7 linked regions of the Homo sapiens genome follow. The protein of the gene in region 4 interacts with the protein of the main gene of each other region in a biochemical or structural test. Each region holds a gene or a part of one and is shown on either strand. Other genes may lie near its edges. The genes, in order: MAP4, PTTG2, LIN7A, DLG4, CIT, SIPA1L1 and ZSCAN30.

Region 1 (3,558 bases), on a different chromosome or scaffold from region 4:
GAGACACAACAATGATTCCATTAAACTGGAAGTTAAGATTGTCACCTGGACACTTTGGGCTCCTCCTCCCTTTAAGTCAACAGGCTCAGAGGGGGAGTTACAGTGTTGGCTAAGGTGACTGACCCAGACTATCAAGATGAAATCAGTCTACAACTTCACAACGGAAGTAAGGAAGAGTATGCATGGAATACATGAGACCCATTAGGGCATCTCTTCGTATTACCATGCCCTGTGATTACTGTCAATGCAAAACCACAACAGCCAAATCCAGGCAGGACTACAAATGATCCGGACCATTCAGGAATGAAGGTTTGGATCACTCCACCAGGAAAAAAACCCATGACCTGCTGAGGTATTTGGGGAAGGCAAAGTTAATACAGAATGGGTAGAAGAAGGTAGTCATCAATACCAGCTATGACCACGTGACCAGCTGCAGAAATGAGGACTGTAACTGCCATGAGTATTTCCTCCTTCATTTGTTAAAAACATGTTTGTGTATGTATACACATGTACTAATATCTTCACTTTATATTTCCTTTTCCTTTATCATGTGACATAAGATTTATTGATTTCATAACAGCATTTAAGTATTATTAACTTTATGTAATAGTATTTGGGTTGGGGATTGGTGTGTTTCTGGTTGTATGAAGGATAGTTTTATTACATTAGGTGTAATTATGACCTTATTATTGTCTTTATTTTAAGATTACATACGATCTCAGATGTATATGGGTTCAAGTTGACAAGGAGTGGACTTGTAATGTTAATACTGTCAACTTGATTGGACTGAAGGATGCAATATTGATCCTGGGTGTATCTGTGAGGGTGTTGCCAAAGGAGATTAACATTTGAGTCAGTGGGCTGGGGAAGGCAGACCCACCCTTAACTGGGTGGGCACCATCTAATCAGCCACCAGCGAATATAGAGCAGGAAGAAAAACATGAAGAGATGGGCCTAGCCTCCCAGCCTATATCTTTCTCCCGTGCTGGATGCTTCCTGCCCTCGAACATCGGACTCCAAGTTCTTCATTTTGGGGACTCGGATTGGCTCTCCTTGCTTCTCAGCTTGCAGACAGCCTACTGTGGGACCTTGTGATCACGTAAATCAATACTTAATAAACTCTCCTTTGGAGATATATCCTATTAGTTCTGTCCCTCTAAGAGAATCCTGACTAAAACAAGTAGTGTGGGGCTCGTGACAAAAACTGATAGCTTTGCTGCCAAAGGGGCTCCTGTGGCATGACAGAGCTGTTGTCCACAGCAAATGCCATCTCACACTACTGGAATTATAAATTCCACTATTTGAATAACCACTGCCGAATTCAGGATTTAGCAGCTTTTCTGAAGGAACCATAAATAGGAATTCAATGGTTCCTATAGTAGGAACTGGACTTGGTAATCCCAGCCTGTAATCTCCCAGCACTTTGGGAGGCCAAGGCGGGTGGATCACTTGAAGCCAGGAGATTGAGACCAGCCTGGCCAACACAGTAAAACCCTATCTCTACTAAAAATACAAAAACAGAATAACTAGCTGGGCACTGATTTTTATTATTTAGATGGTATGCACCTGTAATCCCAGCTACTCAGGAGGCTGAGGCAGGAAAATTGCTTGAACCCAGGAGGTGGAGGCTGCAGTGAGCCAAGATCACGCCACTGCACTCCAGCCTACGTAACAGAGCAAGACTCCGTCTCAAAAAAAAAAAAAAAAGTTCCTATAGTAGTAGTGGCACACCTGTGACCCATTTACAACAGACGAATGTGGGTGGGAAGCCCTATTCTATGCTCGTCCAGCCTACTTTACATATAAAGTATTATTGTAACTCCAGATCATGACAGGGAAAATGCTGAGAAATGAGTTCATTAAAGAGCTTTTAAAAGCCTAACAGATTATAATGTCAAAGGGTTCCATGAAAAGCAACTATTCAGTTGCTTTTACTATTCGGTTATGCCATTTCCCTATTCTATCTCTGACAACTATTATTAGTAGTTATCCTTTGGGAGCTGTTATGAACCAAAAACTAAAAAGGACGTCTGTAACTAGTTTTGATAGAGGCAAGAGGCAAACAAATGTCTAGGCAGACAGGGGCGGGTCCTCAGTGAAACCCGAACTTTAATCCGGAAACTGTCCTGGGTAAATCCTGAGATCGGATTAAGAACCTGCCTTCCCGTTTGGCATGATTGATCCCCATCCTTCACCTATTTAACCTGTACCTACCCTTTCCTAATTGGTTTTCTACACTGTCCTGCCCACCTTGGAGTGGTGTCTTCGCTTTGACCTTTTTTGCATACTCACAAACCAATGACCACACACTCCCATTCTGAACCAATAAAGAGCCCCAGGCTCAGCCATATTACGGAACTTTCCTGTCTTCAGGTAGTAGAACCACCTACCATGTTCTCTCTTTTTGCTAAGAGCTTTCCTTTCGATTAATAGATTCTACTCCACTCACTCTTTGATGTCCACGTGCCTAATTCTTCCGCTCCTGAGATAAGAACCTGGACCTAGTTGAGCTAAGGAGCAAAAATCCTGCATCAGTTTCATGGTCAAAGAGAACTTAAAAGGACATCTGTGCCATCCTTAACAACATACCATAAAAATCCAAAATTTAATTTTCCCCAGAAATACATAATGACATAAGATGCAATCTACTCAAATCTTTTCCTCATTTAAGGCACAGGGTAAAAATACAGTCAAAAACACCAATACATTTTAAATATCATTTATCAGAATGCAGATTATCAAAGGGCAGCTTTTATCCATTGTAATCTTTCCCCTATCCAACCCTCAGCACCCCCACCCCGCCCCCAGCCACACACTCTCAGATGACTTCCTGGGCTGCATGTGGTTCATGGAATATGAACAGTAGCTGAAATTCAGCCTAAGAGGGTAAAACTGATAGAAAATTATACAATTGGAAAGTGGGAAGGTCATGAAGCTATGAGCACATCTAGCTAGCCACTTAGCATCTGTATTTCATCAACAGTTAAGCTATTCTTTACTTGTCACCACATAAATAGAATATGATTTTAAAATACACACACACACCCCCTTATGGAAAATGATCCTAGAAAGGTAATGCTAGTGTCATCTTTCAAGTTAAAGTACTGTTGTTTTTTTTTTCCCAGAAATCCCCAGTTTTCAATAAATTAAAGCGATTATCCAATTTTATAGTTATTTTATTCTGAAACATGTATAAGTACAATACACTCTTTAAATGCTCTATAGATGTTAAACTGGTTCAAGTATTCCAAAATTAATTTTAATAAATTCATGTATGAATTTCATCTCACACAGAATCACTTGAAGTTACTTACTATTCGGTTATGCCTTAAATGCTTAGTTACATATTTTATGGATAAAAGGATATGACACTATTATTTTCAAATCTGGATGTTCAGGAGGATCAAAAAATGAACCCTTGTGAATGAGAAGCATTTACTCTAAAAAAAAAACCTCTCACTGACCAATTGACCATTTATACTATTCCTCTTCTATCCATACAGATAATAAAGTTAACTTTAAATAGATTTGTGAGTAAGAGTCAAGAGAATTTGAAAG
Region 2 (2,457 bases), on a different chromosome or scaffold from region 4:
TGAATAGCAGCTCCTGGCCTAGGAAACTCACTAAGTCTTGGAATTCAGGAACCAGAGAGGAAACCCTGAAGCCTCTCAGGTGATCTGGATTGACACCAGACATCTGTGACTCTATCAAAGCTTTGTACAGAATTCAAGGCATGGACATAAAAGTGCTTTAAGTTGTAAGACATTAGCAGAATAAGATACGGGATTTCATGAACATTATTTAGCCATATAGACATTTTAAGATAATCAGTGTTAGTCCTAGCTGCAAATATGTTCCCTATTTTTTTTTAGCATTCCACAAAATTCTCATTCTTTTAATTATCTCCCTTTGCTGCTAGGACCTCCTTAAGGCTTTCATCTGGTTCACACTAGGCTGGGAAGAAAAGATGTAGAAGTTCTTGGCCTGGCCCTGGCCTTTTCTCCTTTATCCTTTGCTATTTCCTGTCTCCTGTTTCTCTACAGAAGTAAATCATGTTGACATATCCCCAAAGAGTACGGGCTGTAGTATGGAAGAAATATAGAAACAAGGGACAGCTGAGACAGATGCACATAAAGAGGAATATGACCCACTTTATATTTATGTATTTATTATGTTGTTAAACAAATAATGCTTTATTAATACAAGTACACACAAACTCCAAAGCACTAAGAAATTTAAATATCTATGTCATAGCAAACAGCTGGCAATTCAACATCCAGGGTCGACAGAATGCTTGAAGGAGACTGCAAACAGATTGCATTCCCATGGTGGAGAGGGCATTTTCACAGGTGAAGGGGGGCCCAGCTGAAACAGCTTTTCAAGCTCTCCCTCCTCATCAAGGATCATGAGAGGCACTCCACTCAAGGGGAGGTGTGCAATCTGGCGCTCTTCAGGCAGGTCAAAACTCTCAAAGTCTAGAAGATTGAAGGGAAAGAATTTTTCTATTTCTGGATAGGCGTCATCTGAGGCAGGAACAGAACTTTTTGTTTTAACAGTCTTCTCGGTCATCTTTTTGGCAGAAAAGCTTGGCTGTTTTTGTTTTCTGGGTCCATTGGTCTTTACTGACTTTTCTGTAGCTCTGTTGACAGTGCCCAAAGCCTTTCTGGTAGCTTTAGGTAAGGCTGATGGAGCATCGTATGTTTTGCCAAAACGTCGTGTTAAAACTTGAGATATCCCATCTAATGCTTTGATTGAAGGTCTAGACTCCAGCTTCAGCACATCCTTGGCAGCCACACGGGTGCCTGGTTCTCCAATTTCCTTATCAACGTAGATCAGAGTAGCCATTCTGGATTATTGCCGCTCTCAACAGCCACATTCATCTAAGACCGTGGTCCCACTTTATATTTAGATAGAATGTTAACTATAGTGGAAATTGGTGTAATATCTAATTTTTGTGCCTAGCACATCATCTGAGAGTTAGCATGAACTCATATAAAGAGCACAGGCCTGAGGTCAGACAAACCTGGGTAGGAATCTCGGGAGTACCACTTTCTGTTAGCTGTAAGATTTGGGCAAGTTAGCTAACATCCAAGCCCTATTTCCACATCCATAAAATGGAGGTAAAACCCAACTCTTACACATTGTTAAATGGTCAAAAACCACTTAGGTAAAGGGCAGAGCAACCAATAAATAAATAGTTTCTGCCGTTATTGCATTTTCTAATTTATAATGTACTTTTGCATACATTATTTCACTTCTTACTAACCTTTAATAAATGCAAGTCTTCCATTTTTTACTAAAGCAGCACCCCTGAAGTTTCTCTAAACTGCAAAATGCTCAAATGTTTCATCCCGAGTTATCCCTTTTGCCAACTCTGATCTACTGGTGGCAGACAATCCAGCATGCAGTGGTGGGGAGAGCCGAGAGGCCCTCTCTGAGCAACGTGACTACTAATGGTGCTTGCTTGGGCAGGAATACTGGACTATGGCAATGACTATATACCTTTGCCAACCCAACCCCAATCTAGTCCAGGCTATTGATTCACAGCAGCAAAGGGTCACTTCTGTTTCTAAGGCCTAGAGATAAGTTGAGGGCACTTTTGCAGTGAGCCATTTCAATTCAATGATAAATATTCTTGTTGTCTAATTCATTCTATGAATCTTTGACCCAGTGACATATGTGCGTACGTATTTGAGCCCATATGCAAAAATATACAGTTGAGTCTTGAACAATACAGGATTGAGTCGCATGGATCCACTTGTTCTCAGATTTTCTTCTGCGGCTGCCACCTCTGAGACTGCAAGACCAACCCCTCCTCTTCCTCCTCCTCCTCAGCCTATTCAACGTGAAGACAATGAGGGTGAAGACCTGTATGATGATCTATTTCTACTTAATGAATAATGCAATATGTTCTCTTCCTTATGATTTTTCTTAATAACATTTTCTTCAGCTTACTTTATTGTGAGAATACAGGATATAGTGCATAAAACATACGAAATATATGTTAGTCGACTGTGTTATTGGTGAGGTCAACGGAAGACTATCGGTTA
Region 3 (3,558 bases), on a different chromosome or scaffold from region 4:
TCCCTTATAAGAAAGCTCAAAGTCAACCACGTATTAAATTTATTATATATATATATATTCTTACTTTACACAATTATAATTACTGTTAATATACTTTGAAATTTTTTAAACTTTTCATACTGTTTTTAAATCTATACCTTATTTGATTTATATAATATATTCAGAGAAATTGCAAGTTCATACTCTGGGGCATAAGCCTCTATGTGACGCAATTGTGTGACCTAGCTCTAGAGTCCTCTACCAGAAAGTTAGACTCTGAAATTATCACTTGAAACATGCTTTGAAAAAGTCACAGTTATCTAAAGGTCAATAAAAAGCTTATCTCAAAACATTATTACATAGAAAAAAGTAAGTAGTAATTGGAATGCTGAAGTGATAGAAAATATTCATGGGTTGAGAATTTTGATATACATTAGAGGACAGCAGAGTTGAAGGAATAGTTTTGGGTTCTATGAAACTACTAGTCAGTCTAAAAATAAGAAACAAATGAATAAAATTCAAGATATGAATACAGAAGAATTTCATTCTACAGTTACCAATAAAATATCATGTTCCAATTACATTTGATTTTGGATATTGTGTCCCAAGCATAAATCAATCTGGCCACAAATAACTGAAATCGAGTTTATATATTAAAATCCTTAAGTTCTTAGAAAAAAGATCTTAGGTTAATCGAAAGGTAACATTGATAAGTTTCTGTTTATATTTCTGAAATGTATGCTTTTAGGTAATTTATGTTTAATATAAGTGGATGTTATAGGGAGAAAATGTTTGTTTCATAGGAAACAATTTCTTTAGCAACTCCTTATTACAAGTGGAAGTGGTGGCATCCAGAGAATATGTTATGAGAAAATGTATATTCATACTTTTACTTTAAAATGTTACATATTTTAATTTACTCTAATTTCATTTAAAAACGAAAGCATATATTATGAATAGGTAATTTAATCAAACTCTTTTTTGGAGGAAGGCTAATATGTTTTTATTATACTATAGCTGTAGATCTGGCTTCAAGAATTTTGAGGCCGGGCGCGATGGTTCACGCCTGTAATCCCAGCACTTTGGGAGGCCGAGGCAGGCGGATCACGAGATCAGGAGATTGAGACAATCCTGGCTAACATGGTGAAACCTCATCTCTACTAAAAATACAAAAATTAACCGGGCTTGGTGGCGGGCGCCTGTAGTCCCAGCTACTTGGGAGGCTGAGGCAGCAGAATGGTGTGAACCCGGGAGGCGGAGCTTGCAGTGAGCTGAGATGGCACCACTGCACTCCAGCCTGGGGGACAGTGTGAGATTCCATCTCAAAAAAAAAAAAAAAAAAAAATTTTGAGTGCATTAGCCTTTTTCATATGTGTTATTATTACATAAACATTAAAATTACCCTTCCTCTGTAATTAAAATGAAAAACCCACACACATTACAAAGTAAGGAGCTATATCTTTATTCTTAAAATGTATGTATTTGCTTATAGTAACTTAGGATAAAAAGTATCTTGAAATTACTGTATTCTTGTAAATGTTACTTGGAGTATTATGGGAAGAAAGTCAGCTAGTTGGATTAATTTCCTGGGATGTTTTTTCAACTCACTGATATTTATCATAACTGAACATAATGAAATGAGACATAAAAATTAGATTGCAGCTTTTATAGGTTTAATATCCATCAATGCTTAGAAAGCTGGTTAGACATAAAATGAATATTTATTCTAGGTTTTCAACGTTGACTTCAGTAATAGCAGGGGGCAAAAAAAAAGAATGTGCTTAAGGAGAAAATCTCTGGTTATTTTATAAACATACCACTCCGTTCACTGATAGCAGCTGGTCTCCTCTTTTGAGGCCTCCGTGTCTTTCAGCCACCCCTCCAGGAATTATGCGAGAGATATAAATGGGGGAATTTTGCTCCTTTCCTCCCATCACATTAAAACCAAGGCCTTCATCAGTCTTTGGCAGTTCAACTACTCGAGGGTGGGAGTGGCCTTCACTAGCTGCAAAAGCTGCAACTGTTGCCTGAAAAAAAAAAAAAAAGATGGTCTTTTGGTAATAAAATGAGGGAAATAAAGGCTAATCATATGCTTTGCAGTGGGTAGCTCAGGCAACTTCTCATATTTTTATAGTATTCTCCTGTGAAAGAAAGAACACAAAAAGCAGAGGACTTTCTTCATTTAGATGCCATCTAGGATTTCTTTCTTTGGTAAAGTCCCACTCATCTATTTCCAGCTTCCTAGGGCTTATCTGTTATGACAGAATTTTCCTGTCTTCATAAAAATCCTTTCCAGTTACCTTGGTTAGCTGCAATTCTTCCTATTCCTGGAGTCCAAATAACTTTGTTATATGTACTATCTACTATTATAATTATTTTATACATGTGTTGACTATGAGCACCTTAAGAGCAGAGATGGCGTCTTGCACTCTTTTGTATGACACAGAGTCTAATCTGGTGCTTGCACATAAAAGTTCATAAGTATTTTTTTAATAAATTGAAGAGCACTTGTATGTATACATACTTTTGAATACATATGTAATCTTGCTATTGCCAACCCAAAAGCTTAGCAAATTTAACTTTTTTAAAAAATTAAGGATGCCTTAAAGAGAATGAAAACTAAAATAAAATAATAGATTCAAACAGATTATTGTTAGCTTATACCAATATACCATATTATTATTCCATACTGAGAAATCTTATCTGGAACAGGATTTTTCTTCCTATATTATACATTAATATTTCAATTATTATAACAAAATAGGCAATATGAAGTCAATGATTTTATACCTAGATATACAAAACATCATTTAATATGGACATAATTTGTTTTAAAATTCATGTACTGATTTCATTAAATGAGTTCAAGAAAACAACTTACCATTAGTTCCCACTAACCCCATAGAAATAAAATAACAGCACTTAGGTAGTTTCTATCAAGAAATGATTCTGTGCCTGCTTATTTTTCACTTTTATTAATTCACCTTGATCACAGTTGATTAGATGCCTGCTATAAAGTGACTTACTCAACACTGTGAAAATATTTATTCCCAACGACTGTACCTTCTTTTCCACACACAGCATTATCACATCAATTTAGCATTATGCTACTGTCTGCATTTAGTGAAAGATAGTGAATGACATGAAAACAATGGCTTGTTTTTAGCTACATGCATTTGCTCATGCAAACCTCATTGTCATGCATAGATTTTAATGGCTGACATGGATGCAATGCAGACAGCCCAGAAACAACCAGAAAATACTGTGCTATTGCAACATTATGCTGCTATCCTGCTGTTCTACATGAATAAGAAATGAGAATGGTAAAACACTACACAATTCACTTTCCCCTTAATTAAACCACGTAGGGATCATTTTTCTGTGTGTGTTCCACTTCAGTACAAGCAAAGCATGACATGATGATAATAACACCCTCTTTTTTTCCCTGAGTTTAAACAAAACAAAACAAAACAAAAAAACCTTACAAATCTACAGTGTTCAGTTACAGAGTAAAAACTAAAAAATCAAGAGAGAAACTAAACAAGCGTTGATGTAACACAAAATAATTAAATGGAAAAT
Region 4 (3,558 bases):
CAGCACCCGCCACCCAACCTTCTCCCCAGGGTGCCAGAAGAGCCAAAGTTAGGTGGAAGGGAAGATATTCTGCCAGAGATGCCAGGGTGGGGTGGTAAGGGGATATCAGATCACAGTGACATCAGGGGTCAGGAATTTATAGGTGACATCAGAGGCTGGTTGTCCTAGGGGATAAAGGATTTGAACGTTATATGTCCTCAGTATGCCAGGGATGGGGAAGTCAAAGGGAGCATTAATATTACGCTTTGGGGGTTTTCTCTGGGTTCCTGTGTCACTCGAATCTCTTAATCCATAAAATTCTTCTCCCTCTTTTTTCCCCCCACCTCTCTGCCATCCATTCGTTGAAAAAACTAGGTCATTTGTCTAAAAGAATTTCCCACATTCTATGAGGGAAATTCTTTTGTTTTTTTGGGGTTTTTTTGAGAAGGAGTCTCAGGCTGGAGTGCAGTGCCGTGATCTTGGCTCACTGCAGCCTCTGCCTCCCAGGTTCAAGTGATTCTCATGCCTCAGCCTCCCAAGTAGCTGGGATTACAGGCGCGCGCCACCATGCCCAGCTAATTTTTGTATTTTTAGTAGAGACAGTGTTTCACCATGTTGTCCAGGCTGGTCTGGAACTTCTGAACTCAAATGATCCACCCGCTTATGCCTCCCAAAGTGCTGGGATTACAGGCATGAGCCACCTTGACCAGCCTATGAGGGAAATTCTAACAGGGAAATTACTGCTTACCCTCCTGTGGTTTGTTTAGCCTATGCCTCTGCCCCTGTATCTCCTGTAAACTGGCAGTTCATTCTGGAGGCTTGATCAGTTTCAAGTTCAATTCAGAGTTTTTTTTAGTAACTCCTGTATACTTCATAGGTAGCGCTACGTTCTTCCTACAGCATCACCACAGGATGCAATAATGCCTGGTTGTCTTTCTGTCAGGTAAGATTAATGGTAGGTTCAGGGTCATCAGCCCAGTCCATCCATTATCTAGCGCCCCATCAGCCTTTCAGGTAAGTTTTAGCCACACTGACAATCACCGCCTGGTTCTGATAAGTATCAAGGACTGCAAAATGGTGGTGATTGTCATTTACTAGTGGGAATTCTTCTGTAAAAAAGAAAAATCTCGACCAGGCACGATGGCTCATGCCTGTAATCCCAGCACTGTGGAGGCCAAGGCAGGCAGATCACTTGAGGTTAAGACTTTGAGACCAGCCTGGCTAACATGGTGAAATCCCGTCTCTACTAAAAATACAAAAATAGGCTGGGCGTGCTGGCTTACGTCTATAATCTCAGGTACTCGGGAGGCTGAGGCAGGAGAATTGCTTGAACCCAGGAGGCGGAGGTTGCAAGGAGCCAAGATTGTGCCACTGCACTCCAGCCTGGGTGACAGAGCGAGACTCCCTCTCAAAAAAAAAAAAAAAAAATTCCTCCAGCTTGGGTAACATGGTGAAACCCTATCTCTACAAAAGACAAAAGTTGAAAGTTAGCTGAGGCTGGGCGCAGTGGCTCACGCCTGTAATCCCAGCACTTTGGGAGGCCGAGGCAGGTGGATCACAAGGTCAGGAGTTCAAAACCAGCCTGGCCAAGATGGTGAAATCCCATCTGTACTAAAAGTACAAAAATTAGCTGGGCGCAGTGGCAGGGCCCTGTAATCCCAGCTACTCGGGAGGCTGAGGCAGGAGAATTGCTGGAACCCGGGCGGCAGAGGTTGCAGTGAGCCAAGATCGTGCCACTGCACTCCAGCCTGGGTGACAGAGTGAGACTCCATCTCAAAAAAAAAAAAAAAAAAGTTAGCTGAGCATGATGGCACTCGCCTGTAATCCCAGCTACTCGGGAGGCTGAGGTGGGAGGATCGCTTGAGCCCAGGAGGCGGAAGTTGCAGTGAGCCAAGATCACACCACTGCACTCCAGCCTGCTGGGTGACAAAGCAAGACCTGCCTCCAACAAAAAAAAAGCAAAAACAAAAACAAAAAAACAGCCCTATGTCAACCTGTTGGTTACTCTCTGAGGTAGCTGGTACATGAAAGGGAGGATAAATGCATGCCTCTCTCTGCATGCCTCTTTCCATTCATTCACCAATTTCAGAATGAATGAGATTGCCTAGCATCCTCCAATTTTTTTTTTAATTATTTATTTTTTTGGGATGGAGTTTCACTCTTGTCGCCCAGGCTGGTGTGCAGTGGTGCGATCTTGGCTCACTGCAACCTCTGCCTCCCAGGTTCAAGGGATTCTCCCACCTCAACCTCTCCAGCAGCTAGGATTACAGGCACCCACCACCACGCCTGGCTAATTTTTTGTATTTTTAGTAGAGACGGGGTTTCGCCATGTTGGGCGGGCTGGTCTCGAACTCCTGACCTCAGGTGATCCGCCTGCCTCAACCTCCCAAAGTGCTGAGATTACAGGCATGAGCCACCGCGCCCAGCCAAAATATTTTTAAGTATTATTATGATCTTAAAGATTTTAATATATTTAACGAGTTTTCACTGGACAGTAGAAGCACCTTCAGTTTGGATCCTGTGTCTTTGCTGAGACCCTATTAGTCCTGGATACCTTCCTTGCTCTCTAGTATGAAAGAAGTTAGAAGCTCATCTTACAGATTTATTGCCAAAGATTTTAAATTGGCTGGGCACGGTGGCTCAGGCCTGTAATCCCAGCACTTTGGGAGGCCGAGGTGGGGGGATCATGAGGTCAGGAGATCAAGACCATCCTGGCTATCACGGTGAAACCCCATCTCTACTAAAATATACAAAAAAATTAGCCAGGCGTGGTGGTGGGCACCTGTAGTCCCAGCTACTCGGGAGGCTGAGGCAGGAGAATGGCATGAACCCGGGAGGCGGAGCTTGCAGTGAGCCAAGATCGTGCCACTGCACTCCAGCCTGGGCGACAGAGCGAGACTCCGTCTCAAAAAAAAAAAAAAAAGAAAAGAAAAAAAAAGATTTTAAATTGACCCTTCTTCCAAGGAGCCCAGGTTCCTTTTGTTAGGTTATGGTATTTAGGAATAGTACCACATGATTTTAATATGGTTTTACAGTATTATTTCATATTTTGTAGGGGCTGCCACACCTCATTATTTGTTTCCAAAATGTCTTAGCTTTTCCACACAAATTTTTCCAGTCAAACTTTAGTGTCAACCTTCCAAGTTCCCAGTAGGGAAACAACATTAAAATTCTGATTAGGATTGAATGGAATGTAGATTAATTTGGAGCCGGTTGAGATCTTTAGCATATTAAGTTTTTCCATCCAGAGACACGGTGTGACTCCTCACCCCTTCCAGTCTTGTTTTATGTCTTTCAGTAAAGTTTTGTCATTTTCTTCATACAAATCTTACATTTCTTGTCAAGTTTCTATTTCTAATAATTTTATAGAAATTTTTTCTATGGCAAAAGGGGGCTTTTTATTCACTACATTTTCTTATTGCTGGGAAGTTACTAATTCCTGTTATTTATCTTACAAATAGCCACATTCCTTTTTTTTTTTGTCGTTTTTTGAGACAGAGTTTCACTCTTGTTGCCCAGGCTGGAGTGCAATGGCGCGATCTCAGCTCGCCGCAACCTCCGCCTCCCAGGTTCAAGCAA
Region 5 (3,558 bases), on a different chromosome or scaffold from region 4:
GGAAGGCAACCACTGTGAACACTTTCTGTGTAGCCTTCCAGAAAAACAATTTATATATACACATGTGTGGGCTGAGCGTGGTGACTCACGCCTGTAATCCCAGCATTTTGGGAGGCCAAGGTGGGAGGATTGCTTGAGCCCAGGAGTTCAAGACCAGCCTGGGCAACATAGCGACATTATGTCTCTAAAAAAAATAAAAAGGGCCGGGGGTGGGGGTGGGAATCAGACAGATGGTGGCTTGAGCCTGTAGTCGCAGCTATTCAGGAGGCTGAGGCTGGAGGATCACTTGAGCCCAGAAGTTCAAGGCCGTGGTGAGCTATGATCACACCACTGCACTCCAGCCTGGGCAACATAGTAAGACCCTGTCTCTAAAACAAAACAAAACAAACAAACAAACAAACAAACAAAAAGTGGGGGAAAAAGTTAGCCAGACATGGTAGCTACAGCCCATATTCCCAGCTACTCAGGAGGCTGAAGTGAGAGGATCACTTGAGCCCAGGAGTTTGAGGCTGCCGTGAGCTATAATCACGCCACTGCACTCCAGCCTGGGGTAACAGAGCAAGACGCTGTCTCTCAAAAGAAAAAAAAAAAAAGAAAAGCATATGTGTGTATGTGTGTGAATCTATATCTATGTTTGAAAAAAGCATGCAACATTTCATATAGGATGCTATCATTTGGGTTTCAAAAGGAGAGCACACATATATATTTGCTGGTACGCACAGAATATCTCTAGAAACTGCTACCACTTGCCTCTGGAGAAGGGAAAACATTTTTTGGTAGCTATTATATTTTGAGTTACATGCATACATATTTTCCTTTTCAATTACACACACGTTATCCATTTGCTTAGGAAGCTCTTTTTTTTTTTTTTTTTTTTTTTTTTTTTAAGACAGAGTCTCGCTCTGTCACCCAGGCTGGAGTGCAGTGGCGCGATCTCGGCTCACTGCAAGCTCCGCCCTCCGGGTTCACGCCATTCTCCCGCCTCAGCCTCCCAAGTAGCTGGGACTACAGGCACCAGCCACCACACCCGGCTAATTTTTTGTATTTTTTTCGTAGAGACGGGGTTTCACCACATTAGCCAGGATGGTCTCGATTTCCTGACCTCGTGATCCACCCGCCTCGGCCTCCCAAAGTGCTGGGATTGCAGGCGTGAGCCACCACGCCCGGCCAGGAAGCTATTTCTTAAGGTACATTTTCTTCCTAAATTCCTGTGTCTCGCAAAGTCTGAATTACAGTCATGGAGTTCCTTTTTTAAACAACAGTGGCCCCGTGGGGGCCTCAGTTCCCCAAGTCACTCCTGGCCTCCGCAACAGACACACAGGCCTCGGAATGCTGCCTCACCTTGTTCACCTGGGACAGCGGGGTCCTCACGGCTCCCGCAGGCAGCCGGCCCCTGCTGCTGTCTTCAAACAGCCTCCCGGGGGACCGCTCTCTCCGCGTGCTGAGCATCCGGCCGGGGGACTTCTCTCGCTCCAGGGGGCGGCCAGGAGACTTGTCCCTGCGCAGCTCGGTCCGCCCCTCGCGGTAGCGGTGGGGTGTGCTTGGCTCTCGCGGGTGGCTGGGGCCTTCGGGCGGCGCTGGGCTGGAGGCCACGCGCTTGGTGATGTGCTCGTTGTACGTGGGTGGGCCTCGCTTGTTGGGGCTGCTGGCGACACAAGAGGAACGTAGGGAGCTGCGAGGCCACAACCCCAGAGGGGCATTTTCCTTCTTACCTGAGCAACCCCCTCCTTGACCCAGCCTCACCACTGATTATCAAGAGATTAGACCTGGAGTTCTTTGGACTTTGCCTGCATTTGATTTTGGTAGCAAAGACAGGGAAGAGAGCAAAGATGGCAACAAAAGACAACCCACCTTCCTCAGTGCAGGCTTTCATTTACTGAGCACCTACTGTGTGCCAGGCCTGTGCTAAGTTCTTCATCTGCCATCTCTCATTATCTCATTAAATCATCACAGCAGCTCCTGAGCTATGAACAAGCATGACCCTCACTGTACAGGCAAGAAAATGGGGACAGACAGGAGTTAGGTGACTTGCCTGAGCTAATGAGTGGTAGAGCTGGGATTCCAATAAAGACCAGTTTGATAGGCCAGGCGCAGTGGCGCACACCTGTAATCCCAGCACTTTGGGAGGCCGAGGCAGGTAGATCACGAGGTCAGGAGATCGAGGCCAGCCTGGCCAACATGGTGAAACCCCGTCTCTACTAAAAATACAAAAATTAGCCGGGCGTGTTGGCGTGTGCCTGTAGTCCCAGCTACTCAGGAGGCTGAGGCAGGAGAATTGCTTGAACTGGGGAGGCGGAGGTTGCAGTGAGCCAAGATCGGACCACTGCACTCCAGCCTAAGTGACAGAGCAAGACTCCGTCTCAAAAAAAAAAAAAAAAAAAAAAGACCAGTTTGATGTCATAAGCCCCATATAATATCCTACTGACCTACTATTTCCCAGAGCCTAGAAGGCACAGAAGGAAGTCATCAACTAGGAGGTCAGCCTACTAAGACCCAGAAGTCAGGGACCCACAAAGGCCCTCAGTGCAAGGAAGCAGTTTGGAGAAACCCTGTACTGATCACTGTTAACTGCCATGTCTGTCCCACTCCTGGGCCTCGTGTTTGGTCACCTCTGCCCCCATGTGGCTTTCCAAGAGTCTCTGACACCTGATGCAAATGCAGATGCTCAGAAGGTGGATGGTTCTCAGTCATGACAATAAGACGACCGAGAGGTGTAGGGATCAGGCCTGATAGAGTCAGGAAACTGAGCAGGGCAGACAAAGTAAAGCGGGCTCAGAAAACGTCCCAGGCCTCAAAGGTTGATAATTAGTAACCAAGCAGTTGAAAACACTGCGGCCTTTTTGTACAACCCAACCCAATCCTCCACCCACTCCTGGCCTGGATATTTCAAATGAAGATTTCAGCAGACCCAGGGGCCAAACTCCCTCTCTGAAGATGTAGTAAGACCTACAAACACAGAGAGAACTGAAATGTGGCCTTCTGAGTCAATTCTTTCCCACCCTTGATCAGCTCTAAAAGTACTAGGGTCCCTATTATCTCAGCATAATTTGTGCTTGGAAAAGGCCCTACTTAAAATGGAGGAAAAAAATTACAGTGAATATTACTTGAAAACATATTTTGTTTGATTGAGGCTTTATCTTGGAATATAAACTTATTTTATGCTAGATATTTTTAGTATTTAAATTACAATGCAATTACATGCTGATTCCAAAAATGAACCAAGCATGAATCACAGAATGATTTGTTTTGTGCTAATTGTCTCAACAAAATTGCTGCTAACATGCTCTGACACCAACGTTGGACACATTGGACTTTTGCAGTGGATCCTAAAGAAGGCTCTTCAAAAATATTTGAAAAAGCCGGGCACAGTGATGCATGCCTGTAGTCCTAGCTATTAGGAAGGCTAAGGAAGGAGAATTGCTTGAGCCCAGGAGTTCAAGACCAGCCCGGGCAATATGGCAAGACCCCGCTTCTAAAAAACTAAAACTAAAAATTAAAACAAGAAAAGTGTTTTCCCAAAGGACTATCTTAATCCTTGATATTTAAATCCTTCTCATT
Region 6 (3,558 bases), on a different chromosome or scaffold from region 4:
CTTGAAGGGTTATCATTGAAAGAGGAACATGTAAAGTTCTGGAATGTAAAGGGAATAATAGCAGTCTGACAGTAGAAGTATCTAGAAAGCTCAAAAGCCATGTTTAATTAGGTAGCAGTGCAAAACTATTATCCCTTTTACAAAAGATGGTGAAGAGGAGTGCTAGTGAAAACAAATGGCATTTATCTGAATGGCTCCACAGACTCAGCCAGCACGAGCCCAGCCAGAGCTCGCCTCACCCTGCATTCTGCAGGCAGCATGCATTTTTTTTTTTTTTTTTTGAAACACCCCTACATGTTCCAGCCTTTAAATAGCAGCGAGTCTTCTAAAGTGATGCTGTGTGCTGCAAGAGAAATGAAAGCGCCTGCCTTGGAGGCAGGAAGCCGACTAGGGAGATGCTTAATTATCGTGGAAGTAGGTGCTTGTTACCATTGAGTGGAGAGTGCAGCAAGTGCAGGTCGTCCTCCGGTGTCAGAGCCGTGATTTGTAGACAATGCCGCCCTGTCAGCTCAGTGCTGGTTCAGCAGCATCTTTCCAAACATGTATTTGGCAAGAATTTAAAGGCCACCTCTTGTGTAATTTGTGGAGTCTTGGAAAAGGAGCCTCTGCCTTTCTTTTCAGAATGTACGCAACCATGCAGAATTTTGTACTCAGAATCTGTGTCTCCTGCCTTCTGCCTGACGTGCTCATGAGGAAGTTTGTTTCCATGCCCGTCACCTGGAAGGATGCTAACAGTTCTCTGTAATCTGTTGGGGATATGGAGAGGGCCACCCAGAGCTGTGTTTTGTTTCTGCCGTCTTCATAAATTAGCACTGATGGGGTGGAGTAGGTTGTACTGCATGAGGAAATGCAGGCATTTTGTTCATTAGTGAGATACTTCTAGCTTTTAAGAGTACAAGAAACTAAGGAGAGCTTGGGAAGAGGTGGTGGTGAATGCTGGATTCATTCTGCAATATCCTCGTCTCGGTAAGTAATAAAGTAGAGGAAAATACAAAAGAGTGCTAATGGATATAATGGCTCTGGGAAAACTCTTTTTATTTATTTTTTCCTGCTGTATTTGTTTTTGCCAACTATGTTAAGCCTTTGTAAGGAAACAAAAAACATGTATTGATTTTGGAATAGAGGAGTTAAAAAGTGATTGTTGCAGCATATTCAGTAAAGTCATTTTTCAGTTTTTACTTTTGTCAAAAAACTCTGTTGCTCTAATTATCTTATTCACTTGGTTACATCTCAAACTTCTGGTCATCACAGTAGCTCATGATGTTCTACATTTTTAGAGGTCATTGGAGCAAAAGTCTGTACTTTGGGTAGGAGCCATGATATCCAGAACAAGATGTACCCCTCCCCCTGCCCCCCATTTTATGAAACAGTTCAATTAAGATGAAGTCTTAATAGTTTTTTTTTTTAGAATATAAATTATGGATTTTATCAAATGGTTTTTACTTTCTTCCTTTCTTTCAAACCTGCTTTACTAAAAATACGGATTGTGGAACTGTGAATCCTAATCCATTATTGAGTCTTTTATCTTCATGTGTCTGGTTTTGACAATTGCATGTTTGTTTTTAGATGTATTTATCTGCTAATTCAAATTATCCTTTTCTCTTTTAGAGAAAGCATGGGATTATGGCAACCACAGAATCTCAGTAGTACAAGTTCCATTCAGTTTTTTCTGAAAGAAAGCCCTCTGTTAAAGTGAAGCAAAGAAACTGTTGTGGATTATAACGTTTAGAAGTTCCAATTTTTCAGTGCTTTACAAATAAAGCATCATTTAACCTTTTAAATGAAAAAGATTAAGATCTCATGCAACTGTTGTATTTTCTGGAAGCCATTCTCCAAAAGGGAAGTGCACATTTAAAACACAGATATGATGGTCCTTGCTGCAGGGATTTAAGTCTACTTGCTTTTACATCATGACCAGCTTGAAACGGTCACAGACAGAAAGGCCTCTTGCCACTGACAGGGCCTCTGTTGTTGGCACAGACGGCACCCCCAAAGTCCACACTGATGATTTCTACATGCGGCGCTTCCGGTCCCAAAATGGCAGCTTAGGATCATCAGTTATGGCTCCTGTAGGACCCCCCCGAAGTGAAGGTTCTCACCATATAACCTCAACCCCCGGAGTCCCAAAAATGGGGGTAAGGGCAAGGATTGCAGATTGGCCCCCAAGAAAGGAAAACATAAAAGAATCTAGCCGTTCAAGCCAGGAAATAGAAACCTCAAGTTGCCTTGATAGCCTGTCCTCCAAAAGCAGTCCTGTGAGTCAGGGAAGTTCTGTTAGCCTCAATTCCAATGACTCAGCCATGCTGAAAAGCATACAGAACACGCTGAAAAACAAGACAAGACCGTCGGAGAACATGGACTCCAGATTTCTCATGCCTGAAGCCTACCCCAGCTCCCCCAGAAAAGCTCTTCGCAGAATACGCCAGCGAAGCAACAGTGATATCACCATAAGTGAACTTGATGTGGATAGCTTTGATGAATGTATCTCACCTACATACAAGACTGGACCATCACTGCACAGGGAATATGGTAGCACATCTTCAATTGATAAACAGGGAACATCTGGAGAAAGCTTTTTTGATTTGTTAAAGGGCTACAAAGATGACAAATCTGATCGAGGTCCAACTCCAACCAAGCTCAGTGACTTTCTCATTACTGGTGGTGGCAAGGGTTCTGGTTTCTCTTTGGATGTAATAGACGGGCCTATCTCACAGAGAGAGAACCTCAGGCTTTTTAAGGAAAGGGAAAAACCACTCAAGCGACGTTCAAAATCTGAAACTGGAGACTCATCTATTTTTCGTAAATTGCGCAATGCCAAAGGTGAAGAACTTGGGAAGTCATCAGATCTTGAAGATAACCGATCAGAAGACTCTGTCAGGCCCTGGACATGTCCAAAGTGCTTTGCCCACTATGATGTCCAGAGTATATTATTTGATTTGAATGAGGCAATTATGAACAGGCACAATGTTATTAAGAGGAGAAACACCACCACTGGAGCTTCCGCAGCTGCCGTGGCATCCTTGGTCTCTGGACCTCTGTCTCATTCAGCCAGTTTTAGCTCCCCAATGGGCAGCACAGAGGACCTGAATTCCAAAGGAAGCCTCAGCATGGACCAGGGAGATGATAAAAGCAATGAGCTTGTAATGAGCTGTCCATATTTTCGGAATGAGATAGGTGGAGAAGGGGAGAGGAAAATCAGCCTTTCAAAATCAAATTCTGGCTCCTTTAGTGGATGTGAAAGTGCCTCCTTTGAGTCTACCCTTAGTTCCCATTGCACAAATGCAGGAGTGGCAGTACTTGAAGTGCCCAAGGAGAACTTGGTGTTGCACCTAGATAGAGTGAAAAGATACATCGTGGAACACGTAGATCTGGGTGCATACTATTATAGAAAATTTTTCTACCAGAAGGGTAAGTAGAGATCCTTTATTTCTTACATTTTCTTTTGCAGTACTTTCTGAAGAAAAGTACTGTATATTAAGATATTTATTAACAATGTGACATAAGATTTGCATGTCTTATCTTTCTTGATGGTAAAATAGCTAAATAACCATTTGCTCA
Region 7 (3,558 bases), on a different chromosome or scaffold from region 4:
AGACTCCAGGAAATGCAGGGCCCCAACGGGAGTCACAATCCTGGCTCAGGGAGCTTCCTGGTCTGGGCTTCCTGAAGGGCCACAGCTCTTCTCTCCTCTTTGCCTGCAATGTGGTGAGCAAGGGGCATGTTTCAGCTCTGTTTGTGTTACAGCTCTTTCAGCCCCACCATTCAGCAGGTCTCAAGTTCTTGTCCTGCATCCAGATAGAATGAGGTATGTAGACAAGTGGAGGCTGAGCAAAGTGAAGAGGAGCTTTACTGAGAAGGAGGAGCTTTACTGAGCAACAGAATAGCTCAGAGGAGACCCTGGAGTGGGTAGCTCCTCTCTGCAGGCAGCTTGTCCCATCATCGCTGCAGCTGTCAGCAAAGAGGAGGCCCTGAAGTGGGTAGCTCCTCTCTGCAGGTTGGTCCTCCTGTTGTCTCTGCAGCTCTCAGCAGAAAAGAGGCCCTGGAGTAGGTAGCTCCTCTCTGCTGGCAGGTCTTCTCCCCCAGTCTGGCTGAGTCCAGGGAATTTTATGGGCCTCAGAGAGGAAGAAGTGCATGCTGATTGGTCCATTGGTGGCCATGGGCAGGTCCAAGAAAAAGCACCACCAGTTCCCCCTCCAGTCAGGGGGACTGGTGGCCTGGCCATTAGGCTTCAGGCCTTCTGGGGACCCGCCCCTTTCTGCCTCAGAGCATGTCGCCTCCTACTGCTTTCTATGGTGCCCAGGCTGTTCGTGGGGACAAGCACCTGCAGGCAAATGCTGAACTGCCTTCAGCCTTCCCTCAGCCTCCCTTCTATGTTTGTCAGCACCCAAAGTCTGGAGGGGGCTGAAGCAGCAGAGGAATGGCCTGTCAGCACTGCCTCAAGTATGCGCACAACTGGCTGGGCTGCAACAGCACCCTGGCTCGGCCCCAACCTTGCTCCTAGATCAGAGCAGTCACCAGGAGCAGGGAGAGGCCAGGCAGCAGAAGCAGATACCTCCAAGCCTGCTGAGGTGGGGGTGCCTTCCCAGGCCCCTAGAGTGCAGAGATATCCAGGTTGGTCCGCAGCCACAACCTGGGTGGCTACAGCTGCACAAAGGAGGTGGGGGATGCAGGAAGGGCTCATGCCTGCTCCAGCACTCCTGCCTGCTTTGGCACTCCTGCCTGCTCCCAGCCTCCAAGAACACGGTCTGTAGCAAGGACTTGGGTGGCTGCAGTTGCACCCAGGAGAGCAGGGCTCCTGCCTGCTCCTGGTCTCCAAGAACACAGGGAGGCTCAGCCAGCAGCCATGACTTGGGCAGCTGCAGCTATGCCTGGGGAGCTCCCACCCGCCAACTTGGAAGGAGCTGGGCTCCTGCTTGTCCCCGCTCCCTCTGGCTCTGTGAAGCTCACAGCATGGGCAGAGCCTCCTGGCTGCAGCCAGCATCTTGGCAGTGGCCACTCCAGATGGTCCAGATGGCCCACTGTTGCCATCAACAACACTCCAGCCTGGGCAACAGAGTGAGAGACTCCATCTCAAAAAAAGAGAAAAAGGAAAAGGAATAACAATCCTAAACATTTATGCAAATTGTGAGCTTCAAAATACATAAAATTAAAACTGATAGAATCACAAGGAGAATAGACAAAACCACAATTATTGACAGAGAATTCAATACTCATCTTTCAATAATTACTTTTAAAATTAGTAGAAAATCAGCAAAGTATATAGTAAACTTCAGTAATACCATTAACCAACTAACAATAATCAAATAGTCAACCCAACAGCAGCAGAATATATTAATATATCCTTCTCAAATGTGCATGGAACATTTATGAAGACAGACCATGTTTTGGGCCATTAATGAGTCTCAATAGATTTTAAAGGATTCAAGTCATACACAGTATGTTCTTTGACTACAATAAAATTAAATTAGAAATAAATATCAGAAAAATCTCTAGAAACCCCCCAAATATTTAGAAACTGAAATAATCCAAGTTCAAAGTATTCTGAACTGAATGAAAATAAAAAGACAACACATCAGAATTTGTGAGATGCTGCTAAGGCAGTACTTAGGGGAAAATTTATAGCACCAAATTTCTATAACACAAAATAAGAAATATTACAAATCAGAGGCCTCAACTTCCACTTAAAGTAACCAGAAAAAAAAAAGCAAGTTAAACCCAAAGCAAGGAGAAAAAAGGAAATAATAAGGAACAGAGTGGACATTAATAGACCAGAAAATGAAAGACAATTTTTAAATAAATGAAAAGCTGGTTCTCTGTAAAGATAAAAATGACAAAGCTCTGGCCTATCCGACAAGGGGAAATGGGAGAAGATACAAATTACTAATAGCAAGAATGAAAGAGGTAACATCACTGCAGATTCAACAGATACAAAAAGGACAAAGTAATATTATAAACAACTTTATGCCAACTTATACAAAATTGGCTGATTCTTTAAATGATACAAAATACTAAAGCTTACCCTATAAGAAATATATAACCTGAATAGCACCATATCTATTAAAGAAACTGAATTTGTAATTTAAAACCTTCCCACAAAAAAACTCTAGGTCCAGATAGGTTCACTGTGAATTCTGCCAAATATTTAAGGAAGAAATAATACCAATTCTGTACAAACTCTTCAACAATACTGAAGACAATGGGATGCTTTTTGAATCATTCTTTGAGGCCCACGTTACCTTGATCCCAAAACTAGACAACGACATTACAAGAAAACTATAGGCCAATATTCTTCATGAAAAATCCAACAATATATAAAAAGGATAATACATCACAGTGAAGCAGGGTTTTTTACAGGAATGCAGGTTTGGTTTAATGTTCAAAAATCAATCATTGTAAATCACCATATTAACAAACTGTCTTCTCAAAAGATACAGAAAAGGCAATTGACAAAATCCATCCTACATTCCTGATATAAATTCTCACCAAACTAGAATTAGAAAAAAACTTCCTCAGTCTGTTAAAGGGTACCAATAAAAAAAACCACAGCTAACATCATGCTTAACAGAGAAAGGATGCTTAAGATTAAAAAAAAAGACAAAGATCTTCACTTAAGATTGGAAAAAAGACAAAGATTTCCCCTTTCTTCATTTCTACCGAACACTGATATACATAAAGATCAATTTTACTTCTTCTTTTCCAATCTGAATGCCTTTCTCCACCTCCCTTTGCCTGCCTTACTGCGCTGAAAATAAGAAAGGCATCCAGATTGGAAAGGAAGGAGTAAAACTGATCTCATATGTAGAATATCTGATAGAATCTACAAAAACAGCTACTAGAACTAATAAATGAATTTAACAAAGTTGCAAGATACAAGATTAATATACAAAAATCAATTGTATTTCTCTATTATATTACCAACAAACAATCTGAAATTAAAGGAAAAATACAATAGCATCAAAATATATTAAATACTTAGGAATAGATCTGTCAAAAGTTATGAAAGATCTGTAAAATATTAAAAAGAACTATAAAATATTGGTGAGAGATATTAAGGAAGACCTAAATAAATTGAGAAAAATATTGTGTTCATGGATCAGATGACTCAATATTGCTTTAACATGTCAATTCTCCCCATATTGATCTACAGATT

Evidence for each region.
Region 1: the proteins of DLG4 (region 4) and MAP4 interact in a test that uses a peptide from one of them, tested with the Homo sapiens proteins (one large-scale study listed by IntAct).
Region 2: the proteins of DLG4 (region 4) and PTTG2 interact in a test that uses a peptide from one of them, tested with the Homo sapiens proteins (one large-scale study listed by IntAct).
Region 3: the proteins of DLG4 (region 4) and LIN7A form a complex in vitro, tested with the Homo sapiens proteins (one study listed by BioGRID).
Region 5: the proteins of DLG4 (region 4) and CIT interact in a test that uses a peptide from one of them, tested with the Homo sapiens proteins (one large-scale study listed by IntAct).
Region 6: the proteins of DLG4 (region 4) and SIPA1L1 form a complex in vitro, tested with the Homo sapiens proteins (2 studies listed by BioGRID and IntAct, with this or other methods).
Region 7: the proteins of DLG4 (region 4) and ZSCAN30 interact in a test that uses a peptide from one of them, tested with the Homo sapiens proteins (one large-scale study listed by IntAct).

What each region holds. Positions count from the first base shown.
Region 1 is NC_000003.12:48,009,862-48,013,419, forward strand, and holds part of MAP4 (microtubule-associated protein 4), read right to left. Parts: intron 1-3,558. UniProt on the Homo sapiens protein: Non-neuronal microtubule-associated protein. Promotes microtubule assembly.
Region 2 is NC_000004.12:37,959,230-37,961,686, reverse strand, and holds PTTG2 (securin-2), read right to left. Parts: upstream 1,290-2,457; 5' UTR 1,253-1,289; coding exon 677-1,252; 3' UTR 559-676; downstream 1-558.
Region 3 is NC_000012.12:80,843,934-80,847,491, forward strand, and holds part of LIN7A (protein lin-7 homolog A), read right to left. Parts: intron 2,007-3,558; coding exon 1,797-2,006; intron 1-1,796. UniProt on the Homo sapiens protein: Plays a role in establishing and maintaining the asymmetric distribution of channels and receptors at the plasma membrane of polarized cells.
Region 4 is NC_000017.11:7,197,094-7,200,651, forward strand, and holds part of DLG4 (disks large homolog 4), read right to left. Parts: intron 1-3,558. UniProt on the Homo sapiens protein: Postsynaptic scaffolding protein that plays a critical role in synaptogenesis and synaptic plasticity by providing a platform for the postsynaptic clustering of crucial synaptic proteins.
Region 5 is NC_000012.12:119,688,810-119,692,367, forward strand, and holds part of CIT (citron Rho-interacting kinase), read right to left. Parts: intron 1,646-3,558; coding exon 1,342-1,645; intron 1-1,341. UniProt on the Homo sapiens protein: Plays a role in cytokinesis. Required for KIF14 localization to the central spindle and midbody. Putative RHO/RAC effector that binds to the GTP-bound forms of RHO and RAC1. It probably binds p21 with a tighter specificity in vivo.
Region 6 is NC_000014.9:71,585,963-71,589,520, forward strand, and holds part of SIPA1L1 (signal-induced proliferation-associated 1-like protein 1), read left to right. Parts: intron 1-335; exon of another isoform or gene 336-966; intron 967-1,608; 5' UTR 1,609-1,910; coding exon 1,911-3,408; intron 3,409-3,558.
Region 7 is NC_000018.10:35,283,701-35,287,258, forward strand, and holds part of ZSCAN30 (zinc finger and SCAN domain-containing protein 30), read right to left. Parts: intron 1-3,558. UniProt on the Homo sapiens protein: May be involved in transcriptional regulation.